4 linked regions of the Homo sapiens genome follow. The protein of the gene in region 4 interacts with the protein of the main gene of each other region in a biochemical or structural test. Each region holds a gene or a part of one and is shown on either strand. Other genes may lie near its edges. The genes, in order: SHANK2, PPM1E, PPM1F and ARHGEF7.

Region 1 (7,121 bases), on a different chromosome or scaffold from region 4:
TTACAAAGCAGGAGGCTGGAATTGCAGGCAGGTAAGACCTCAGGTGTCCAGGCCCAGAACTCTTTCAGAGTAGGAGGCACAACCTCAGGCCCTGCAGCAACTCCCAAGCTGAGCCCCACTTTAGAAAAGTCCTCATCGGGACTGACGGGGATCCCAGAACTCTCTCGTCTGCAACTCTGTTACGTATTTGGAAGTAAGGCAAGTATGCTAAAGCACTGCCTTCCTATAAAGAGCCATTTTTAGGAGTGTGTTTCTGTATACTGGTTAATTCCCGGCCCGTTTTTCTCTCCCATCCTTTTCCTCGTCACTAATGAAATATAAAATGCAATGCGGTCTCAGAATCCCTTTACCTTCCTCTGGGCAGCACTCACATCTGATATCACCTGGCTCCCCAAGCCCAGGCCTAGACCAAGACCCCTAGAAGCCAGCATGGCCCTGCATACAACCCTAAGCACCTGAATGAAGAAATGAATGAATGAAAATCTTGAAACTCACCCAAATAGGAATACGGTTTTCTATAGCAGACTGTACTTGGAGACAGTACACAGAAAGATCCCCCCAACAGACCGCCCCCCTCCCCGGGGGTGGGGGGGAATCTAATTTGTTAAAAGCAGCCAAGTGCTGTCAACCGAGCCCTCTGGGATCATCTTTATAGGTGAAATCACCTACTTGTAAAGAGTTACCTTTGATACTTGAATTCCAACCTCCTTCCAAAGGGACCCAAAGAAGCACCAAGCTTTCCACCCAATTCTTCCTTCCAGGAAAACAAGGAATTCCTGGGTGTAATAATGGAATCAGAGGCCTTATATAGACAGTGCTTCCCAGGAGCTGAATCATTCAGGCACTACTGGGACACCCAGATTCCTATCAGGACAAGAGTCTCCCTCAAGCCCCCTCAGAGGACAGTGACATCCGGCATAGAAACCCACAGCTCCCACCTACCAATCCCCCTCTTAGAGCAGACACGACGGCTTTCCCTCAGAATTAACACTGAACCCAGATGGGGGCCGAGCTCGCTCTCCTCACTCCACCCCCACAGGCTCAACCCTATTAGGACCCTCAACCTTGTTTCCAACCCACAAGTAGTTGGAAAACTCCAAAAGCAATCGGCCCGGGGCTGTTCTGGACCTGCTGAACCCTCTGGGGCACCAGGCTCGGTTCCTAGTGCACAGAAGGGCGTCACTAACTATGTGATGCGGACCGCAGGGCACCGGGGTTAAGGCTGAATCTGCCAGGTCCTTTTCCAGGGGCGCAGAACTTCCCTTGTGGCTGGGTCGGCAAAACCGAGGCCCACATCCCAGATAGAGATCAAATCGCCCTCCCCCACCGGGGGACTTCCGAAATTACCTCTCTGGATCTGGAAGCTTAATTAGCTGATTGGCCTCATTAACGTTCGAACTTGAGTTTCAAACGAAAAAGAGGTCACTCAACTATCCAATTTACAACCTCGAATTTCCACCCGAAAACCACTTTATTTTCGGATGGCCTCTGAGGACGCCCAGGCCCCTGCCAGCAGCTGCCAGCCCCCGAGAGCCTTACGTACTTTCGCCTGACCCCCCCACCACCCACCCCTCACCTGCCTGGCTCGAGCGCCTTCTCAGTTCCAGGCGCCCCGAGCCCCTTTAAAAGATCGGCTGCGAAAACCCACGGTCACCTGCACCACCCTTTCTCCCTCTGGGTGCTCCAGCCCCACGGAAAGGCAAGCCTCGCCCACGCGCCCACCCACCTCGAGCAGGGTGTCCGCACGCAGACCCGCCTGGAGGGCGCCGCGCTGCACCCCCACGCCAAGCCCCAGAACCCTGGCGGCGAGGTCCACCCCAGCCCCCGCATCCCCCCGAACCCGGGCGGCGAGGCCCGCTGCGGTGGTCGCACCTGCTGGCTCAGTCCGGCGGCTCCAGCCCAAGTGACGAGTGCGCTGTCGGCGTCTCTGGGAGCGGTCCCCGCGCCTGGCGCCCGGGGCCGGGGCCACCCGGTGGAGGCGCCTGGGCCGCGGGCTGGGCGGGCGGAGCTGCCCGGCCGCCGGGGAGGAGGGATGCCCGGGCGAAAGTTGCCAGGGAAACTTGATCAACTCGAGCGCGCCGGTGCCAGCTTCCTGCATAATTCACGGACGGTGGCGGCCGGGCTGCGCCCGCCGGGTCTCCCTATCCCAGCTGGTGAGCACGGCGGGCCGGGGTCGGGCACCCGGCTGTGGCTCAGCGCGACCCCCGGGACCTGGGCGCCCGACCCGCCACCCCCGGGCCCGCACCAGGCGCGCCGGCCCCGGCCTCTCCGCGACAGCTGCTGCTGCCGCCGCGCGCGCCTGGATGGGAGCTCTGCGTGCAGGGCCAGGGTGACCGCAGCGGGGTCTCGGGGGACCTGGCGGCCACGGTTCGGGTCTCCGCCCCCGCGCGCCACCTGGCGGCCCCGCGCCGGCTCCTCCGCTGGGCTCGCTGGCCCGGGTCCTAGGGCTGGCGGGCGGTGACCCGGGGCAAGGAGACCCCGGGAGAGCGGGGGAGGTCGCGCCACACGCGCTGTTCCAGAGGAAGGGGCAGGACGCGCCAGAGACTACGTGGTCCATGCGCGCAGGAGATAAAGCGGGGGCTCCTTCCTGCGCTCTGCCCCCACGCCGCTTCCAAAGCTTTCGACACCGGCCCCTGCCCGGGAAGAAAGGCATGCAGGGGGAAGGGCTCTCTACGGAAAATCGACCCCCACCTGGACACGCGGCTCACTCCCCCCAGCGCCCACCTCTCCAGCCTCTCTGGGTCCAGGACTGCGCTTACCCGGTAGTTGGTGCTCCCGGAATCGAGATGCCCCCAAAATGCCGTCAGTGAGCAGGATCGGGTGCCCAAGGGCCACCTCCCGTCCTCCCCGGCCCGCGCCCTGCGTCCCCGGCCGCCGCCTCACCTGGCTCGGCGAGTCGGGGGCGGGTCCGAGCCCCCCGGGAGCGCCAGCGTCCGCGCACACCTGGATCGGCCGCGGGAACCCGAGCGGCGCCGCGCCCAGCCCCGCCGGAGCTCAGGAGCCGCCGCCGCGGCTCAGGTGCAGGGGGTGGGGAAGGACCCGGCCCCGCCCGGCGCGGGAGCTGGCTCCGGCGAGGGTGGGGGAGGGGCCCTCTCGCCGCCGAAAGGACGCGTGCGGCCCAGGACCCGCGGGCGACCCGACCTGGACCCCCACCCCCGCCCACGCCGCGGACCTCAGTCCCCCGCCCCGACCCCGCTCCCGCCCGCGGCTGCGGCTCGGGCGTGCGCGTGGGGTCTGTTGTGGCAACCCCGGGAGACCGCGGGGCGCCCTGGCCGCCTCTGCCCCGCCCCGGGCTGCGTGGCTCACGGACCTCCCCCTCCCTGGCCAAAGCCGGCGGACGAGAAAGTCCCTGATTTTTGTAAAGTCCGGTTCGGTCTGCACGGTTATCCCGAACGCAGCTGGCTCCCGCCACAGAGTATTTATAATAATAGGATTTGGAAATAGAGGCTGCCTGCACATCAAAACGTTTGCAGAGCAAACGAAAACTTTGTACCCGGGTGATACGCCGGCGTCTGCTGCCCAGGCCACCAGTTCTGGGGCGCCTTCCGCCCAGGGGTGCACAACGGTATCTCCGCCAGCTGCCCTCCAAGCCAAGAAAAGCCAGGGGGTGGGGTGGGGGGAGCAAAAGCCAACGGCTCGGGTGAATCCCAGAGGCCAAAGGCACCCTCCGGAGACTCCAGGAATCCTGTTATTATCCAGGACTCCGGATTGCTAGGTTTGCGGAAGCCCAAAGGGGCGGGTCCTGAGCTTGGAGCTGTGGCCGCCGTGTGAGCCATCGGCTGATAGATTTTCTCAAGGCCTTAATCATTCACTGGGAGTCTCCCCCAGTACGAGCTGCGTGTTTCTGAGTAAGCTCTTGAGGTCTCTGTGTTCTGAGTTTTCCAGTATTCTGGAAGGTGTGGGTGGGGATCAGAGTCCAAGCTGTGGAGTAGAACTGTCTCCAGAACCCTGGAGCCCGGCATTATGCAAACCCCTAACTGTGCCCCCTACATAGAGTGAGTGTGTGTGTGTGTGTGTGTGTAAGTCAGTCTATCTTACAGGACATGCCTGAGAGGTTTGCATGGGCTGGTGACTTCAACATACCAAAGGCAAAGTTAAATATTTGCTCTAGATACTTTTTTTTTTCAGCTTGCATAATTGTCCCACATTTCAAAGAAGTCTTTAAAAGCACTTAGGTTAAAAAAAAAAAAGTTGTGTTTGGGGCCTGAATATTTCAGGACACACATGGAATAAATATTGTAACTCCTTGAGGGCAGCTGCCTTATGTAAATGTCTTTCTCGTCGCTGCTTCCTTAAGCATACACTTGATAAAATATTTGTTGAATGAATAAAGGAGTCAATCAATCAAAAAATAATAATCCCCAAAACAGGAAGAAGGACGCCCTGACAGGATCCTGCAGGCATCCTTTGTTTGGCATGGAAGCTGGGGTGCCTGGGAGAGGTGTGAGCAGGACAATCGGATGTTCTTTGGGTTGGCCGGTGGCAGATGCAAGACCTGGGTTGCAGGGAGTGGGGGTGGGGGCTCTACCTTTCCATAACAGTCCATCAGTACCCTCCCCACCAAAGAAGGCAAGTCATCTGAATAAAGTGGTGTATTTACCCTGCAAACCCAGCTCAAAGACCTATCCTCAGGATATTTCCCTCCTCTCACCAGATTCCCACCCCTGGAACACCCCTTCCTAGGTTTCTAGAACCACTGCTGCAGATAGACCAGGCAGCTGGTCACAGTTCAATTGTGAACATTTTTCGGCTATCTCCATGCAAGGTTTAAGACCGATGCCATTATGCTATCTCCAAGAAATACTTCCCTAGGGACGCAGGCCTCTGCCAGCCTTCCACCCAAGTGGACACCCCTTGGGCCATCCCCCTCCAGTCTTTCTGATCTGTTAGCCAACAAGAGCGCTGTGTGAGAGCCCCGACATTCGGCATTTTAAGGACAGCATCCTGCTTACGCCCCAGTTTCTTTGTGTCTGTTTAGAGATATCCAGTTCAGCCTTGTGCTCCGATGAAGCAACATCCTTCAAGTCTGTAAAAATCTCTTATGATCCCAAAACAAAGAAAATCAAGGTTACAGGTGATGGATACACTAATTTCCCTAATTTGATCATTACACATTGCATACGTGTATCAACATCTCACACTGGACCCATAAATACGTACAATTATGTGTCAACTAAAAGTATTGACAGCCAAAAAAAAAGGCTCTTATGAAAAGGTTCAGGGTCAGATAATGCTGCCACAGTGCCTTTATTCACATCTTAACGCTCTGAGCGGGCATCTCAGGTTGAGGGGAACACCTACCCCCCGCCGCTCATTTGAAGTAGGACCTCTTTTGGCATTCTAATTTCTGGGGGGCCCATAGCCACACACACCACCAAGTGCCTTGTTTTAGGTTCAGTTTAGGAAAAGAAGACATGACCCTCCTGGCTTCCTGGTTTCAGAACCCTCCGGTTTTGTTTCTGGAAGCTGCCTTCCAGGATTCACCAGGTTTTGCAGAAAGGAGTAAGCTTTTCCATCTGGTCATCTTGTCTTTTTTTCTTGTCCAACCTGAACCATGAAACCATCAGCCACATCTGTGGAGTACACGCTGTGTGGTCCTGAGCACGCTAGGACTTTCTGGGAAGAGTAACTGTTTTATAGAGAACTGGAAACTGGGACACCATACCATCAGGGATGTGAGATATAGCCACCTTTTTGGTCCTGGGGAAAACATTATAAATATTTTGTGGCTTAGATTAACCCAGATGCTCACTGCCTTCAGCAGCAGTCCCTTTCTCCCAGAGAAGCTCCTGGGTTTGGGGCTTAATGTATTAATAGTTGGAGGCCAGCACATCTTCAGAGAATGATTCTTAGACAGCCCGAGTGGGAGTGGCCTAACCCAAGGCAACCCTGTTATTTAACAGGTGGGAAGCTGAGGTCCAAGGAGGGGAGGAGACTCACTCAAGGGCGTGAGGTCAGAACCACACAGGCAGGTGTGCACAGGTGAAGCCAGGTAAAGGCAAGCACACACAGGTGAAGCCAGTTAAAGGCAGGTATGCCCAAGTAAAGGTAGGTGCTCTGGCCAGCAAGTCTGCCACATCCCCTCATCCCTGCCAGATTCTCCCGTGCTTTTGCCATTTTTTTCCTACTTGTTTTCCACTACAGCAAGAGGTCCACTTCCGTCCTGTTCCCGCCCATGTCAAATACTGGAAAATTCACTCATTTCTCCACAATTTTGTGACAACTTCTAATTCAATCACATAAACCTGATGCTGTAAGGATTCCCAGATTTTACATGTCCTCTCACTCCTGTGCAGAAGTGCCTCTCACGTCTCGCCTCTAGCTTACTGTGGATTTTTATTCCTCTCCATTAATTTTCCATGAGCTTATGTGGATGGATTTGCTGAGAAAAGCCTCCTGGGACTTTGAACGTAAGCATCTTGGCTGCCACCTGGGAGATTGGAGGGAGAGTTTGTTTCTCCTGGAATCTGAGCTGATGAGAGGGGATGGTCTGAAGCTTTTCCTGCTGCACTGGAGCGGGAGGATGTGGGGAGCAGCAGGCAGGAGGGAAAGCTGCGGGACAGGGTCTGCCAGGCTTCCCAGCCAGGCCATGAGCTCTTCCCTTGAGGCCCACGTCCGGAACAAGGGTGTCATCCACCTTCTCCCAGGCCTCCCTTGGGGGTGCAGGGCATCCTGTAGGATGGAGGAGTTCATTCCCCGAGGGGCCACTTCCAGTCCTTGTGGAAGCAGAGCTGGGAGGCTGGGAGAGGTTGCTGCTCTGCCTCCCTCCAGCAGGTGAACAGTCCTGCTGGGGCACATTCTCTGGCTTCTAGGAAGGGCCTTTGGAGCCTCCGTTGCTTACAGCAGGGTCCGGGACAAAATACCTTTATTTGGAGATGGCCTCCTTCTGCATCTCCCTTCCGCTGCTCCCTCACTCCTGCTCCCTGGAGTCAACTCTCAAATGGAGGAGCCTGCATCCAAGTCCTTGTTTCAGGGAAAGCATTGAGGGGAAACCCAAAATAATACAGTGCCCCCCCAACCCTTATTACAGGGGATACTTCGAAGACCCCCCAGTGGATGCCCGAAACTGCAGATAGTACTGACCCCGGTATATTACTATTTTTCTATCTCACGATCCGGCC
Region 2 (2,862 bases), on a different chromosome or scaffold from region 4:
TCTGTCACCTTCTGAAGCCTAGATCTTGTTAACCCATCAGGTGCAGTGTCAGTTTCAAATCAAATTATCTAAGAAAACAAGAAAACAAAGGCAGCAGACTATTGGTACACATTATAGTCCAAAGTGCTTAGCGAAGTAAAAAAAAAAGCTTTTTAAAATTTCTATTGTTGTCTATTGGTAATGTTTTTGATCAGAATAAAGAGGGTAAAGGGAAAAAGTTACTACACATGCTAGGCTTTCTCAGTGGGGAAAAAAATGGCTGGATAGAACTGGGACAAACACAGACCCATCTTTAGGGGTCTGGATTTTGTAGGTCCGACTACACAGCAGTGTTAACTCATTTCTCATGCCATTAGCTCTCTACAAAATAAAGCAAAGTAGTTCTAGTGTGGTCGTTATAAACCAATATTGTGAAAAATAGCAACTATTCATTTGTTCACAACATGCGTATTTATAGAGTAGTTAGGTACCATTTGTAAGGTAAATCCTTTAAAATTCTATAATACATACTAAAATAGTGGTTATTGGTCTGATATATGCTGCTCTTGGTTCTATAAACTAGATAAAAGCAGTGCTTTGTGAAATGCAGTGTTCTCTCTTAACGCCACTGGTGATAGGAAGTAGTTCCCTTCAGTTCAAATCCTGTGCCCTTATTTGCTGCTTGCTGACGTAAGCAATAAGTAACCCTCTAACTAATGGTATCTACATATTTCTGTAACTTGTATTTAATGATGGTGTACCTGGTGATTGTAAAAATATTAGACAGATATAAAAGTATCTATATAATATCTATAAACTGTTAATGCTGAGGTATAGTCTGTGAATTATGTGTTTTGTATTTTTATTCATTGTGTAATTTAGTGGTGGTGAAAGTTCTACACTCAATCCTTAAAGAGTGGCAGTATCCCTTTTTCAATTTAACATGGTCTGCATCAATCTGTTTGCCTGCTAAACAAGTTAGAATAGGAAATAGTAAAATAAATCCAAACAAGAGTGTAATATTGGTTAGGGAAACAAACTTCAGGTCACCAACTGAAGTCATTACAAACTCCTTGTACATTCACTGTGAGTTTCAAAGGGAGTCAGTCCCTAATTTACAGGTTTCCTTTGTTCACTTTCTAGATGTGTACTTTTGAGGGACATGAGGTTAGGCAACATTACAGCAACACACACTGGGGCTATTAATCCCATTTAGGTCTGTACTAAAGAGGATGGGTAGAAACACATATGTATATACCTTTTCTTTACCTAGAAGTGCCATCCATTGTCCTTGAATTATTATGATTAAAGTTACTGTTGCATTTAGGAGGCTCCTTGAAAGTAACACCTTTTCCAAGGACAATGGCAACAATGTCAATGTCAACACTGAGTCTAATTTTGACCACATTTATAGTGGTATAGTGTCAATACTGCATTTTCATGACAACCACACTCCACTGTTGAAACACTGTGCCAGTGAGAAGTGCAACATCCAGTGGGCAGATGAAAATGATGCATGGCCAAGTTCAGTGTTTACAGATAAAACTGCTGTGGTTCAAGTGCTTCCTTCCCCATCAAATCCTTGATAAGGCTTTGTGGGAAAATGATCTAAATTATTGTTTTAATTTTTAAACCTAATTTATTCACTCAGTGAACATTCTTACCTAAGCAAGGCTATAAAAGGGAATACTACAGTTTTGTCCACACTTTAATTTGAGACCATTTTTCTTTGAATCGTAAGTTAGCAAAAGAAATTTTTTTCACCTTTGAAAATCACGTGATGTTAAAGGACAAATGCCCACTCTTCTATTCTGATCTGCAAATAGCTTAAATGTCTCTTGCAAAACAAAGTAAGATACCACCAGTATTACAACACAATGATTTTCCAGACAAATGGTATGGTGTTGAAAAATAACTGTTACTTCTTAAAGCAGCATTTTATCTTCTATTTTGAAGACTATTTATTGTAATAATTAGAAAACATGAAATAGGGAACTCCAGACTGACACAGCAGTTGTTTTTGAAAAGGAAATAAACTTTGATGAATTAGATAATCCAGATACATCATTGTAAACTCTTACTCTAGGTGCTCTTTGGTGAGAGACAGGCTTTGTTCTCTTGTTCATAACATTTCTCTGCAAAGAATTCTCTATGGAGTGAAGCGAATGAAGTGAATAATTTCTTACCAAATAAATTTATCAATTTACAAATCTGCTCTACATCTCACTTTTGAGTTCAGTTGTAGTCATGAGTGATCCTTCATATTTTATTAAAAGTGTTCATTCAGGTAAGGTGTATGTTGAAATTTTGCCAATTATCTTAATAAAACCTGGCAATTTAAAAACCACTAGTCATTTGTCTTTTTATTTAAAGGAAAGGTAAGTTATTTACTGTTTAAATTTGTGCAGATTTCTTCAGAACTGGAAAATAAAATCCTGAGATGGACGTTAAGTTTGGAAGCTTGGAACATTTAAAAAGAAGATTTGCTAAATGCTGCTGTAACATTATTTTACCCCAGAAGAGAGGTATTTAGCCTTATACATGTTCTCTTCATTAGCTGAACTGCGAGGAGAGGGAGTGGTGTTATAATCCTAAAAGAAAAGAGGAACCCGACCTGCCAAGGACTAAGCGGTGGTCATCAAATCTCCCAACTACTTCATTCTTAGAACTCTGCATCTAACCAAGCTTTCCCCTTTCGCTTAGCCTCTTTGAGTTTCAAGCTAGAAGAAAGTAAGGAAATCATCAGATGAGCTGTGGTGGAAAGCCTCCCAAGGACTGCTGATAAGTGAGTAAAAGGAGACAGAGACAAAAAGGACAATGTGGGGGAGGGAAGTCACTTACGACACCTGCATCTGAAGGGAGGGAACTGACCTTCCAAACGAG
Region 3 (6,906 bases), on a different chromosome or scaffold from region 4:
GCTCACCCTCCTAGAACCTATTTAAGGTCCCACATAGGTGAGAAATGGCAAAGCAAACTCATCGGGGGGCAGCTGCAGGGGTGTGGCTGACGGTGCTGCCAGCTGCCATCCGCCCCTGCTCTGAGCACTCTTCCTGGGATGGCTTTTAGCCTCCCAACAACCTCTTGTGGTTATCCCCACTTCACAGGGCAGGCTGTAGCAGAAGAGCTAAGGAACTTGCCCAAAGTCCCAGGGTGGGGTTCATGCTGGGGAACCTGGGCCTTAACTGTGATGACACCTGGGAAGTCATTCTGACTCCTTCTATCCCTGACCTGTCCCTCATTGGCCACCAGCTCTGGGCTTTGGCTCTCTCATGGCTCCTCCTTCCATTTCTGTGTACCCCCCACCCTAGGGCAGCCCCTCCCCTCCTTGTTTTGTGGTGCCCTCCTTCCATTTTGCCTCCCGAGATCTCTCAGATCCTTTGAGGCTTTGCTGAAATCTCCCCATCTTTGGATCCAGCATGCTCTCTTTCATGTCTCTATGGCACTTTTGCTCACATCTGACTTGTAAAAAGTTTTTTTTTTTTTAATTTAAAATATTTATTTTCCTCTAGTGCATTAGTTTTGACTCCTAAGCTTAACGAATGCAGGGTTTAACAACTGCAGTTTTTTAGGGGACATAGAAAAAATACTTGTTGAGTCTTGCTTAACTGCAGAACCAAGGTAATGAAAAAAACCCAGCAATCCTTAGAAAAGGGAACTGCACCACTATAGTGTAACAAAAGCATCATTCATGTTAACTGTTTTTTTTTGTTTTTGTTTTTTTTGAGACAGAGTCTTGCTCTGTCACCCAGGCCGGAGTGCAGTGGCGCAATCTTGGCTCACGGCAACCTCCGCCTCTCAGGTTCAAGTGATTCTCCTGCCTAAGCCTCCCTAGTAGCTGGGATTACAGGCACCCACAACCACGCCTGGCTAATTTTTTTGTATTTTTAGTAGAGATGGGGTTTCACCATGTTGGCCAGGCTGGTCTCGAACTCCTGACCTCAGGTGATCTGCCCGCCTCAGCCTCCCAAAGTGCTGTGATTACAGGTATGAGACACCACGCCTGGCCAACCTTTTTCTACCAAAAGAGATTCTTATTTCTTTATTCATAACTACTAATACTAATAATAGTTAGATGTAAATCCTAGATTTTTTTTCTACATATATAAATTTTTTTTATTGTTGTAAAATATACACACTATGTATCCTTTTAACCATTTCTAAGCGTACAGTTCCATGGCATTAAGCATAGTCACATTGCTGTGCAATGACCATTTCTTTCTACAGGCCTGACTTTCTTGATAGACTGTAAGCTCCCTGTAGTCAGGGAGCCCACGATGGCCCTTTGTGTACAGCAGGTGGTAAGTGTGATGGCAGAGGGAAGAGTGACTGGCGGGTGGCATGGGCTGAGGAAGCTACACCACTCTGAAGGGTGCAGTGGGCAGCAGCGCCAGGTCTTAAAAGACTCGGTTGGCTTCAGGTCAGATGGTATCCTTTTTTTTTTTTTTTTTTTTTTTGAGAGGGAGTTTCGCTCTTGTTGCCCAGGCTGGAGTGCAATGGTGGGATCTCAGCTCACTGCAACCTTCGCCTCCCAGGTTCAAGCAATTCTCCTGCCTCAGCCTCCTGAGTAGCTAGGATTACAGGCACCTGCCACCACGCGCGGCTAATTTTTGTATTTTTAGTAGAGATGGGATTTTGCCATGCTGGTCTGGAACTCTTGACCTCAGGTGATATGCCTGCCTCGGCCTCCCAAAGTGCTGGGATTACAGGTATGAGCCACCGCGCCCGGCCTTCAGGGGGTATCTTAAAGGAATTCCACAAATGAACTTGTGTAGAGGTTCATGGCTTTCAGAAATGCATTCGTTTTGTTTACCTCTCACAACTACGCTGAGAAGTACATACTGTCAGGCTACACTGCAGATGAAGAAATAGGTTATAGGAGGGCAAGCACCCATTTAAGGTCTCACACAGGTGAAAGGGCAAAGCGAACTCAATCAAGGTCTCTGGATGCCCAATGCCTTTGGTATTTCCACCTCGCGTGCAGGAGGAAAAGAGCGAAATTTGACAACAGAAGAGACTGGAGATGGCCTCAGAGTGCTGGCCGGCCCCACTTTCTATCCCCCGTGGTGAGAGCTCAGCTGGGCCCAGAGAACTTGTCCCGGGGAATGCCACCACGACATGTGTGACTCTGTCCCGCAGGGTGGAAGGCTTCGAAGGAGCCCGCCACCATGCAGTGGGCCTCACTGTGTGTCAAGCGCTGTGCCGAAATCCCTGCAGCCGGAGCCAGTTCTTCCTGTTGTACAGACAGGTTCAGGGGCTTGCCTGACCGAACCCAGCGGCAATGTGCCCGGCCTCCGCGCCTGAGGCTCTGGCTCACAGACCTGTGGCTGAAGCAGCTGCAGCCCGAGCACTTGTGCAGCTGACGCTCGCTTCACGGACGCTTGGGAGGCCGCGGAGCCGGGGGCCATCAGGCAGACTGGGCCCCTGAAGGTGCAGGGACTGGGGGGATATGGGGCAACGTGCCGGCCCAGAGGCTCCTGGGGGGTGGGGAGAGGCCAAATCTCGGAAAATGGGGCGCGTCCCCCTCAGCACCCGATTCTGCCTCATAGCCCTCGGTCCCTACCAGGCCCTCGGCTCGGCCACACCCCCGCCTGCCCCCCAGTTCTGCCCCCTTGGCTCCCCAGCCCCCCAACTCCCAGCCTCGGGTTCCTCATGTCCGCAGCGGCCCCTCTTGCTCCTCGGCCCCCCGCACTGCACCCCCGCACCCTTTCGGTGCACCCATGTGAGCCTCGTCTCGGCCTCCTTGCCTCCCCAGCCCTCTGATTCCACCCCTCCGGTTCCTCGGTCCCATTTCACCCCTGTGCGCCTTGGGCGCTCGCCTGACCCTCGTCCCAGCCCCGTCAGCCCTCTAATCCCGTCCCCCCCGGCCTCCTCACCCCTGGTCTCCGCGGGCCTCAGCTGTCTCCTCGCGGCTCCGTGTCCCGCAAGCTGCTGCCGGCCGGCCCCGCCCACTTCCCGTCCCTGGCCGCCGCGGGCGCCGCGGGCGCCGCGCAGGCGCAGTCGGGCCTCCAGGCTGGCGGGGCCGGACCTCTGCTGCCCCCTGGCGGCTACGTGGACGGTGACTGCGGCCCTTTAGTGGTAGGCGAACTGCGGCTCCACCTGGGCTCCGGAGCCGCCCCAGTCACCAGCCTCTTGCTTCTCTTCTGCAGCTTTGGGTGGGCGGCTGGATGGGGAAAGCAATCCCTAGGTCACAGCGCCCAGAAATTAAGCAACTTCTGCCGTCAATAGCTGGTAAGTGACAGAGCAGGGATGCAAACCCAGACTGCCCAGGCAGGCTCATCCGTCCGGGAAGGAGGCACAGTCCCAGGCTCATTATGAGTTGTTTGTTTCCACAAACGTTGAGGCTTTTGTTATCTTTCCGTTCTGGAGGTCAGAAGTCCACTTAGCCTCAGTGGGCGAAGATCCAGGGATCGCCAGAATGCGTTCCTTTCTGAGGATTCTAGGGGAGAAACTGTTCCCCTGCCTTTTCCAGCTCCTAAGGGCTCCCTGCATACCTTGGCTCGTGGCCCCTTCCTACAGCCTCGAAGCCAGCAATGGCCAGTTGAGCCTTTCTCACACTGCCACCTCTGGTTCCCTCCTCTGCTTCCTTCTGCTACTTCTAAAGACCCTCCTGATGCCATTGGGCCCACCCAGATAGTCCAGCATCATCTCTCTAAATCAGTTGATTAGCAACCTTAATTCCCCTTTGCCCCTTATTATTATTATTATTTTTTTTTGACACGGAGTCTCACCCTGTCACCCAGGCTGTACTGCAGTGGCATGACCTCGACTCACTGCAACCTCTGCCTCCCTGGTTCAAGCGATTTTCCTGCCTCAGCCTCCCGAGTAGCTGGGACTGCAGGCACGCACCACCATGCCCGGCTAATTTTTTTTGTATTTTTAGTAGAGATGGGGTTTCACCATGTTGGTCAGGCTGGTCTCAAACTCCTGACCTCAAATGATCTGCCTGCCTCGGCCTCCCAAAGTGCTGGGATTACAGTACAGGCGTGAGCCACTATGCCGGGTCTGCCATGTAATCTAACACAGGCACAGGTATAGGACATGAACATCTCTGAAGGGCCATTTTTCTGCCAACACAGAGGCTCTTGAAAATATTCTTTTTCTCTCTTTTTAGAGACAAGCTCCTTCTCTGGTGCCCACACTGGAGTGCAGTGGCATGATCACAGCTCACTGCAGCCTCAAACTCCTGGGCTCAAGTGACCCTCCCCTCCTGCCTCAGCCTTCCTAGTGTCTGGGAACACAGGCAAGCACCACCACGCCCAGCTGATTAAAAAAAATTTGTAGAGACAGGGTCTCTATGTTGCCCAGGCTGGTCTTGAACTCTTGGGCTCAAGTGATCCTCCTGCCTCAGCCTTCCCAAGTGCTGGGATTATAGGTGTGAACCATTACACCTGGCCAAAATATTTTATTTTAAAGGCAGAAGAAAGAAACCTTTATGTCAAAGAAAATGTTTTAATATATGATATTAATATATTCACCTTTATACCAATGCCGTTGGAAAGTATAATTTTTTAAATGGAGGATGGGGCACCAGATCTTATGTGGCTCTGCCCACCTGACCTTCAGGTCCGCAGGCCTGTGTCCTTGCCAGGAATGAATGTCTCTGGGATGCTTCTCTAACAGGAGGAACCTGGAGTGAGACCAGGAACCTGGAGAACTAGCAGCTGGGTGACTGGAAAGGAAACCATCTGGGGTGGGGTTGGGTCTGCAAGGCAGGAGGTGTCTGGGCAGAGAAAGCAGGGCTGGGGCGGAGGGTCCTGCCTCATCCCATTCTCCTGCTCACTCTTTCCTAGATCCCTGTCAGGGCAGTAACCATGAGCAAGGCTTGAGGCTACTTCTTATAAACAGTGGCCCTGGGCACATTCCTTAGCTCACCTGAGCCTCAGTTTCTTGATGAGAAAAAATCGGGACAATAGCAACCAACCTATCTCAGAGGGCTGCTGTGAGACCCTGAGCCACTGTTTCTCAAACTGCCCCTGAGATCACCTACAACAGAATGGCTGTAGGGTGAAGTTTGAGAACCGCAGTACAGGTGAGGTGGTGCGTGGGGCAGGCCCTCCCACACTGTAAAGTGCAGTGTGGTGCGGTAAAAGCTGATATTCCCGCAGGCATCCTCAGAGTGGGCCCAATTAGACTCTTGAGCACTGATTCCATTCAAGGTCTGCGGCTTAGAGAGGATGGCAAAGTGAGGCACCACCAGGAGCTTGTCCCTATGGGCTCCAGGCCAAGGACGTGCCTGGAGATGACTCCTGCCTTGTGGCGCTGTCACTGCCTCACTGTCCACATTCCATCACGCCTCAGATCCTGGCTTCCACCCTGGTGAAAGGAATCTTTCAATATCACCCACCCAGCCACAGACGCTTCTCTGCTTCTCTGGCAAGGCTGCACCCCTGGCTAGGTGGGCAGGGCCAGGGGCTCCTTGAGACAGTCTGCAGCCACTGACCTCTCCAGCCTCCAGGGCAGAGGTACAGTCCCATGGAGCGTGGCTGATCTGAAGGCAGTTCTGGCCTAAAAGGGGTCTTGTCCCTTCCTTGTCCTCATTGCTCCCAAGGCCAGGTTGGCAGCAGTAGCAGCGGGGTTGGATGCTATTGGATGGGAGAAGGTGAATGGACTCGGAGTGCAGAATCAAGCTGCGGAAGCCAAGGGCCTTGAAGGAGGGTCACACACAAGGGACAACTGCAGAGGAAAATAAAGGAACACTTTGTGATTAGCCCTGCCTGTGGCTGAAAGCGCAGTGCAGAAGCATAGTAAGGAAGGACTGGGTGGTCTGGGTTTAAGACCTAGGAACCGTCTCTGCTCCTCCAAGCCTGAATGAGCCCTATAACCTAAGGGTCCTGGAGGTCTTGAAACCTTCTGCGGAGAAGGCTCCAGGTCCACTGGGCCCTGTGGGTGGAAGAGCAGAGTCACAGCCCCGCACTGGGGACCTAACAGGTGTGGCCTTGCTAGGGCCCCAGAATGGGACCAGAGTGGGTGGGAGGGGGCAGAAGCTCTGAGAGCACCCCCTCCTTCCTGAAGCCTGTGCTTCTGAGACACATCCCAGGACCCTCTATGTGGTTCCCCATGTCTCTGTATTTTCATTCAGCTTCGAGTAGCTCTCCAAACTGTGTTCCAGGGAACCCCCGTGTTAACCTGTGAGGGCCTCCAGGAAGGGGGTCCAGGGGGGGTATGCTTGGTGGGCTCTGGGTTTCCTTACAGGAGCTCTCATATAAGTCCTGGTGCAGCCTGGGAATCTACTACTGAGTTGGGGCGGGGGCGGGTCTGAGTCCGAAACATTCCTGACCTGCCCCTCAAAGAAAGGTCCCACTGAACAGTCTGGAAAGCTGTTTTGCTGAGCTCCCGTCATCACTCAATGAGGCACGGGCGGAGTGTGGAGGGAGTTTCCAACACACAGTGGATCCCGCACAGGTGTCTCTCCTCGGGTGGCTGGGGAGGGGAGCACAAGAAGGCACTGAGGTCAGAGGGCAGCTGCCACCAGCACCTGGCACCACACGGCAGTCTGGCCTACAGGGTATTTTCTAAACCTGGCATGTGAATGGGTTCCATGGGGCACCCAGCTGCCTCTAAGACCATAAGGGCTTGTTGTGAGAATGGGAATTGCAGCAGGTCCTGGGAAGCTGCCAGACGCACACGGGCACCATGTACAGGGCTTCTCAGAGATGGGAGCAGGGAGCAGGGGACGGAGAAGTGTGGGGTCAAGAGCGTGGCCCTGAGCAGGGGGCTGCAGCGAAGACCAAGGGGATTCATAAGCCAGATCCGGGGAGGGGGTCTCCCAGCCCCACCTGCTCCACTAGACTCCTCTCCTGCCGGAGCCACAGCTGTCAAGGCC
Region 4 (7,036 bases):
CCACCAAGCCTCCCTCTATCCCAGGAAAGCCATGGCCTACGTGACCAGGAGGCCACGTCCTCCACCACACGGACCGCAGGTACTCACTTTTCCGGGACGCGAACTCCTCATCTGAAGGCTTCCGTTCAGGTTTGCGCTTGGGCAGCAGCTTTTTCATGGTCTTAGGGCTCTTACTAAGATCCTAGGGAAAGACAAAAGAAAATGCTAACATACTCTAAAGCCAATCATTTTCACTGGCATATCAGAAAGGCTGCTGTAAAGGTATAAAACCCCAAATTATTATAGCCACTGATAAGAGCTTCTCGCCTTTTCCTACTTTGATTTTTCTTTACCAGCTTCTGAACGTTAATTTTTAAAAATCAATAGGGCATTTTCAGTATTAGTCATTGGCTAATTTTTTTTTTTTAATTCTAATAAAACCCCTCGTGTCATTTGGGTCCTGTTAGTCCTGTGATGAGAGGTGTCACCAGGAGGCAGGCTGGCGCTGGTGTGCACAGACATCCTGCACGCTCCTGAGGGAGGAGGAGAGGAGGGGGCAGCTGCTCCCTAGGACAGACCTATCCCCTGGCACAGCTAACTGGAAAGAGAGGAGGAAACTAAGGTTGTCATTAAATGACAGATAAGTAAAAAATAATTGCTTTAAGAAAATATTTGAAGTTTCAGGGAGAAGAAAAGGGAGCGAGTGCTCAGCTACCTGACTCTGAGTGCCAGGAGCACAGCCAAGCTCGGCCAGGGCTGCTGTGCAGGGGCCACATGCACACCAGCTCAGAGTGTTCACAACGGAATGGCCCACCCCTTACCTCTTCAAACAGCTTTTCAAACAAGCACAGAAGACGACGGCAAAAAACAAAGTGAGCAAAGCAAGTCCCAACAGAGCAGGTAAGGTGTCAACTGTCAAGCACGTGTTAAATACCGATATCAAAAAAAGGCTGGTTTCTGCATCACCCCAACGACATAAACCATCACGAATGCTAAACGCGAGACCAAGACTCAGAAGATGAGATGTGCTATGGAATGAACCAGGCTGGAAACAGAGGAAACAAAGCTTGGTTTTTAAAATTATCTTTAAAAGTCTTTTCTTGGGAGCTAAACAATGGGTACACATGGACATGACCATGGAAATGACAGACCCTGGGGACTCCAAAAGGCGGAAGGTGATGGGGGTGAGTTTTGAAAAGCTACCCATTGGGTACAATGTTTCCTATTTGGGTAATAGGTACCCCAGAAGCCCAAACCCCAGCATCACCCAATACAGCCACGTAACAAACTCTGAATCTAAAATAGCCTTCAAAAAGTTAAACAAAAGTATTTCTATAAAAAATTGGAAAGCTCTTAGAAATGCAGCAGCAATCTGTTCCAGAAGACACATTTATACACATGTGCTCATGGCTTCCCTAATTCGAAGCAAATTGAGATGGAGAGCCTTGAAGAGCCAACGCCCGCCCCTCACGTGCTCCGAGGGCACCTGCAGGCGCAGAGGGTCACAGAGCACACAGCACACCTGAGCCAGAGCCAGGCAGAGCGGGCTGCAGAGCGGCCTCCACGAGCCTCCATGTCCTCTTCTCACACCCTGCAAGATCACTCTCCACGCTACTGCTGGGCGGTGCTCAGCAACACTGGACGGCAGCTGCTCGGTGTGAGCCCTTCTCTCCCAGTGTGGAGTTGGCAAAGCAAATGCAGCCAGACTTATCAAAAAAAATTGTTTATCTTCACTTCAATACCCCTTCCGTTGCCCTTTCTACTTCTTTGCCCAACAGTTTTATCCCAATTTTCTTCCCTAGTAATTCAGTCTCCACCAGTTCTTGTAGTAGCTCACTTTTTCTTTAGACTGTGCACACTAAAGTATACAATAAGGAACAGCAACATTCTTCAAGTAACTTCCCATGATAGAAAATGGAAATTCTGACTTGCACACATGATTACCTGAAAGATATCATAAAAACAAAGACTCAGAACAAAAAATGAAAAGCACAGATCCTAATTTCTCATACAGTACTTTCCTGTGGGCCTTAAAACCCCCAGGGCTGCCGGCAAGAATGTAGAAAAAGTCTGCTCCAGTTCCCTTGGCAAATGTGGCCTTGACCAGACACAGAGGCACAATGCCAGGCAAGAGCGTGTCACCATCCTCACGCTCACTCACACCCCACCAACGGGCACTGCTGCTCACACTGACGCGCACGATACCCACACTCTCACCGCCACTCCTCATACCTCACCACCATGCACGCTCAACTGCTTATGAAAACAACTCTCATCTCAATTATCAGCTTCCTCAGGTGAAAGTACTTCTCAGAACAGATTTCTAAAGACACTTCCTTTCCTCATCCAAGCTGGTTTAGGTAAAAGTGTAAGGAAGTGTTAACACTTCTATTTATTCATTGGAATCGTACTTTATTTGCGCCTAGCAAATATAAAAATGCCGGATGAGAACAGAGACAAGCAAAGACCGCATCATGATTTCTTATGCATCAAAGGGGGAAACCGCCTAAGTGATTGTTTTTCATTTGTATTAGTAAATGTTCTCTTCATCTCAAATGGCTTCTGGATGACAAAATGCAGGGCTCCTGGACAGGATCCCCAACCTAGAGGAGGGGTCGTTAGACGCAGCAGACAGCGTGCAGATGCTGAGCGATGGCCTCACACACAGGGAGTGAAAGCCACCTGGGCTCAGCGCCTTTCCAGCTCCTGGCCCCTGGCGGCACACTCCTCCGGCAAGTGCAGTAAAGGCCCCCCTGTGCATGGCAGAAAGGAGGGGGACCCTGCACATCGCCTTCCCACACAGGTTACCACGGGCCTCTCAGCAGCAGAGCAGATAACCAGAGAACCAAGGCAGACCCCCCCTTCTCAGTTCTCTAGGAGTTAGGGTGCATTTTGCTGTACACAGAAGGCCCAGCACGTGGGCACACCCAGGGCCCGAGGCATGCTCACCGTCATCTGGCTGTTTGAGTGGTCAAGGGACCTCACCTCCTTGTAGCAGAGAGCAGCTGAGGGCCGGAGGGGAGGCGCGGGCCGCAGGCAGCTCAGGCTCCAGGGCTTGGGTGTTTTCGGAGGCTCCAGGGGTCCCCAGTTGATGGTGGTGTGCGGGGTGCCGTGGTGGGAGGGGTGGGGCAGCGTGTGGTAGGCGGGCGTCAGCGGCGCGGGCTTGCTGTCTGCGTGCTTGCTGGACGGAGTGACCGGGTGGGAGGGGAGCTGCCAAGGGCACAGAGCGGGAAGGGCAGAGAACATGAGACTCGCGTGCTCACCGCGAAAGGGCACTTATCACGCACTTCCTTCTGCTCTTTAAACACTCCATGTGAAATAAACCTCAGGATTTATCATTTCATTCGTATCTCTGGCTCTCAGCAGTCAGTTTTTGGGGCCAAACACTAGCTCGCGCCACCTGGGCCGAGCGTGGGGCTCCTCACGGCGTCTGCCCCAGACAGGAGGGGCAGCTCTAGCTGGGGCCCCAGCACTCAAAAGACATCCACTAGCCACATTTATTAGCTACGGAGTAACATTTATAGAAAAAAGGTACTTCATCTAGTAAAAAGATGAGAATTTCACAAAAGCACACAGGGCATGTGGCTGTAAGAAGGAAGGTGATTCCCCCCCAGCCACGTATTATTCTTCACCTGGTGATAAAGTACTGGGCGAAACTAAGGCCTGATCGCCTAGTTTTGTTTTTTAAAAAAGTTTTCCTGGCACACAGGCAGGCCTGTGCCTGTCTAAAACTGCTGTTGTGTTCCAAGGGCAGAGTACAGCTGCAAGAGGCCTGAACCTGTAAAGCAGAGAACGTTTACCATCTGGATCTTTACTGAACACTGCCAAACCCTGGTATTAAAACCAATTATGTTCTTAGAAAACTCAACTTTAATCAAAACAAAGTTAATCAAAAATTAACTTCTTAGAGCGGTGTGCCATTAATGCATTTTATATTCCTGGAAAACCCAAAATATTCCATCACAATGACAGTTAAATGAGAAAAGTTAAATAAGTCATTCTCAAAATCAGCCAATAATGACCTCAAATTAGCCAACAATAGTAAGGTGCATTTAATGGGAGAACAAGCTGTGTGGCGCTGTGAACTGGAAACGGAGTGGGGCCGGCATTCTGAGGAAGTGCGCGACCTTCAAAACACAGGCTGAGAGGGACGGCAGCTAATGCCACAATTTCAAGAATAGAAGCCATCAACTTCCTGCAACGATCACATTCTAGTCCCTGCATGGGGGAGGGAATTGTGTGAGATGCAGGTCATGCTATGAAGCCACTGTAAGGTCATCTTTTCATAGGAAATAATGTATAGATGGATAAAATTATGTAAGACATCCCTTCTAGCAACAACGTCAAAGCAGTGTCTGGTTTTGTTTCTCCTTTCTTGAAAAAGTCAAAGGAAGTATGCTTTATGCTAAAATTAGAAAATGATTTCAGCTGGTCAGAGTTGGATCACAGAATACATCATCCCACACAAGAAACTCTGTAGGAGAATGCAGAACATTTTAAACATGAGGCACAGTGCCTTCCCCGCTGAAGGGATGCCTTCCCAGCCACCAGTGAAAGAAACACTAAGACGGAGGGTCTGGCCACAGAGAAAAGCTGACTTGATATAAAATTGTATGAAGTAGAGTTTCAGGCTGCTGTTGAAAACCTGAGTGAAGCAGCTCATCCACTGTTCTTTATAAACACACGTGTACACACACGTCCCTGGGATAAACTGATCTCCATGAAAGAATGGAGAATTTTAAAATGGTAGAGCCATTAAAAATGAAATGCTAGCTAAAAGCCAATGAGTAGTTACAATCTTTACTGCTGAAAGAAATCAGATGGACTCTGAAACTCTGATGAGAATATCAGAGTACAGCAATCCTTCTTGAGCTACAACCTTCACATGAAGAAGAAAACATGAAAACTGAGCACACGACAGAGCTGATCCTAATAGCCTAATAAGGATGTGAGGAAATCTGTAAGCAGAAAACGCCTGTGTCATCGTCATTCATTCTTTAAAAGCTCTGCCCAGTTTTTCCGTATTACTTGATAAAGATGACGACTGTTAAAACAACCCGATACCAACTTCTTGAGCACAAAACACCAGGAGAGGTTTAAACACTGAAGCTTCAGTGTTCATCTATTCTGAAAAGTTGTAAAAAAAAAAAAAAAAAAAAAAAAAAAAGTCTCTAAATATCCAAAGACTTGTTGAGCTTTTCTAAGTAAAAGACACCTCAATTTCTTAAAATCAACAGTGTGTCATAAATTCTTTTAATGCCTTCAACATGAGTCTGGCCCTTTTCATCATCATAATCATTTATTTTTTGTTTTCTTAAATGAAGCATAATAAACAGTTAAAATTCTCAGAAAAATCATCTATAGTTGAGTGTAAAACTCCCCTAAATCAGTCTTCTAGGGCCACACGGAGCAGAAGCAGCTTCCCACCCAAGCACCTCTGAACTGTGCGTGAGGAGGCACAATTCAGGGTTGTTTCTCGAGAACACTCATTGGAAAACAATTCACTACTGCACGAAGAGGGCCAAAGATCTGCAGAGAAATGTGAAGCAAGTGTTTTGCACTTTTTATCCAAATATTGATTAGGTTTTAAAGCAACTGATCACTTGCTGACAGCTCAGCCACGGGATGCCACGCCTGGAGTCTGGAAGGAGGAGAAGCACCAAGTCCTTACGGTATGAGATGGCACTGAATGAGGCTTTATGGTGGGGTTTCCCACAGACGTGACCTTCGTTTGCTTCTGTAGGTGCTCCACCCATTCCTGCAGATCCTGCTGGTTGTTGCACGACACTAATATCCGCTCAATCATGCTCCCTATAGGAGAGAAGGAAAAAATAGGCCGAGTGGAAACACAGGTAAAAAGCACGTGCGTGCACACCCCCCAGAATTCCACTCAGCGCTTAAACACCACCTTCTGAAATACGCAAGCAAGAATCTGCACGCGGGGACAAGCTGCCTCTCCTCCCCGAGACACAGCACTCACACAGCTTGTGCCTATCACCTGATATTTCAAATGCATTTCTATGATTTTCACTGTCCTCAAGCTTTGTGATTGTCATTCCTGTCGTTGGAAGCTTTCCCTAAAAAAGACCCCCCCCCACAAAAAAAAAAACAATTAGTGCTTTTCTAGAAAAAGGTACCATTATTAAAGTCAATATTAAATGATTTTAGAATTGGTGGAGGAACTGTGTTTGTGAACCAAAAAAAGCTCATTTGTAGCAGATGTGTGTATAATACAAAAATTTTTATCTCAAATAATAAATTATAATACTGTACTGTAAGCAAGAAACTCAACTGGCGACAAGGGACAGAGTGACAAGCCCAAACACACACTGTATCTGATGAGCTGCTACTAAACATAGACACCAGGACAAAAGACATCACACATTATGATTTTTAAAAAACTACCGTGTATAACAGTTGTTTTAAATGATGTTTTTGCAGAAAAGAACCATGTATTTTCCTCGTAAAGAAATGCAGAGGAAGTTCCAAGTTTAAAGTCAAAATAAGGGTGGGAAATTGAGGCAAGAACAAGAATTTCATAACATTCTACTTTGTAAAACAGAAAATAAGTAGTTGTGCTAAATGCTGCACACAATGCACAAAATGGTTGGCAAACCAGTGCTCCCTGAAAACAGAAGAAATCGGTAACTGCACCAGGAAATGTCAATGGAAAGATACCAGAAAGGGGGTACAAAGTGATCATTACAAACAAGTCAGAAGTGAACACAAAACATCCTGGCACAGCTGACAGAAACCACAGTACATGGTGGCCCACCAAGTCCGCAGGAAGAGGCAGTGGGCGTCTGGGCAGCGCTGCCTGGGGAGCACTCCATCAGCTGCGGAGCAGGATTCTACATAAGCACCTCCAGACGGAGTGCTGCTCAACTGGTGTGGGGAACGTGCCCCCACAGAGAATGGGTGGCAGTGCCACAACCTGGCAGGGGCTCAGACCTCCAGCAAGTAAGGGCCAGAGAGGCTGCTGATACCCTACAGTGCCCAGGACAGTCTCACCGAGACCCCCAGCCCCTGGCCATGAACGATCCAGTCCAGAACGTCA

The links.
Region 1: the proteins of ARHGEF7 (region 4) and SHANK2 form a complex in vitro, tested with the Homo sapiens proteins (one study listed by BioGRID).
Region 2: the proteins of ARHGEF7 (region 4) and PPM1E form a complex in vitro, tested with the Homo sapiens proteins (one study listed by BioGRID).
Region 3: the proteins of ARHGEF7 (region 4) and PPM1F form a complex in vitro, tested with the Homo sapiens proteins (one study listed by BioGRID).

What each region holds. Positions count from the first base shown.
Region 1 is NC_000011.10:71,249,542-71,256,662, forward strand, and holds the start of SHANK2 (SH3 and multiple ankyrin repeat domains protein 2), read right to left. Parts: upstream 3,037-7,121; 5' UTR 2,884-3,036; exon of another isoform or gene 2,760-2,883; intron 2,332-2,759; exon of another isoform or gene 1,873-2,331; intron 1-1,872. UniProt on the Homo sapiens protein: Seems to be an adapter protein in the postsynaptic density (PSD) of excitatory synapses that interconnects receptors of the postsynaptic membrane including NMDA-type and metabotropic glutamate receptors, and the actin-based cytoskeleton.
Region 2 is NC_000017.11:58,982,854-58,985,715, forward strand, and holds the end of PPM1E (protein phosphatase 1E), read left to right. Parts: 3' UTR 1-64; coding exon of another isoform or gene 65-68; 3' UTR 69-2,326; downstream 2,327-2,862. UniProt on the Homo sapiens protein: Protein phosphatase that inactivates multifunctional CaM kinases such as CAMK4 and CAMK2. Dephosphorylates and inactivates PAK. May play a role in the inhibition of actin fiber stress breakdown and in morphological changes driven by TNK2/CDC42.
Region 3 is NC_000022.11:21,949,836-21,956,741, forward strand, and holds the start of PPM1F (protein phosphatase 1F), read right to left. Parts: upstream 3,014-6,906; 5' UTR 2,957-3,013; intron 1-2,956. UniProt on the Homo sapiens protein: Dephosphorylates and concomitantly deactivates CaM-kinase II activated upon autophosphorylation, and CaM-kinases IV and I activated upon phosphorylation by CaM-kinase kinase. Promotes apoptosis.
Region 4 is NC_000013.11:111,279,292-111,286,327, reverse strand, and holds part of ARHGEF7 (rho guanine nucleotide exchange factor 7), read right to left. Parts: intron 6,057-7,036; coding exon 5,978-6,056; intron 5,791-5,977; coding exon 5,651-5,790; coding exon of another isoform or gene 5,594-5,650; exon of another isoform or gene 5,204-5,593; intron 3,190-5,203; coding exon 2,965-3,189; coding exon of another isoform or gene 2,929-2,964; intron 1,924-2,928; exon of another isoform or gene 1,502-1,923; intron 182-1,501; coding exon 88-181; intron 1-87. UniProt on the Homo sapiens protein: Acts as a RAC1 guanine nucleotide exchange factor (GEF) and can induce membrane ruffling. Functions in cell migration, attachment and cell spreading. Promotes targeting of RAC1 to focal adhesions. May function as a positive regulator of apoptosis.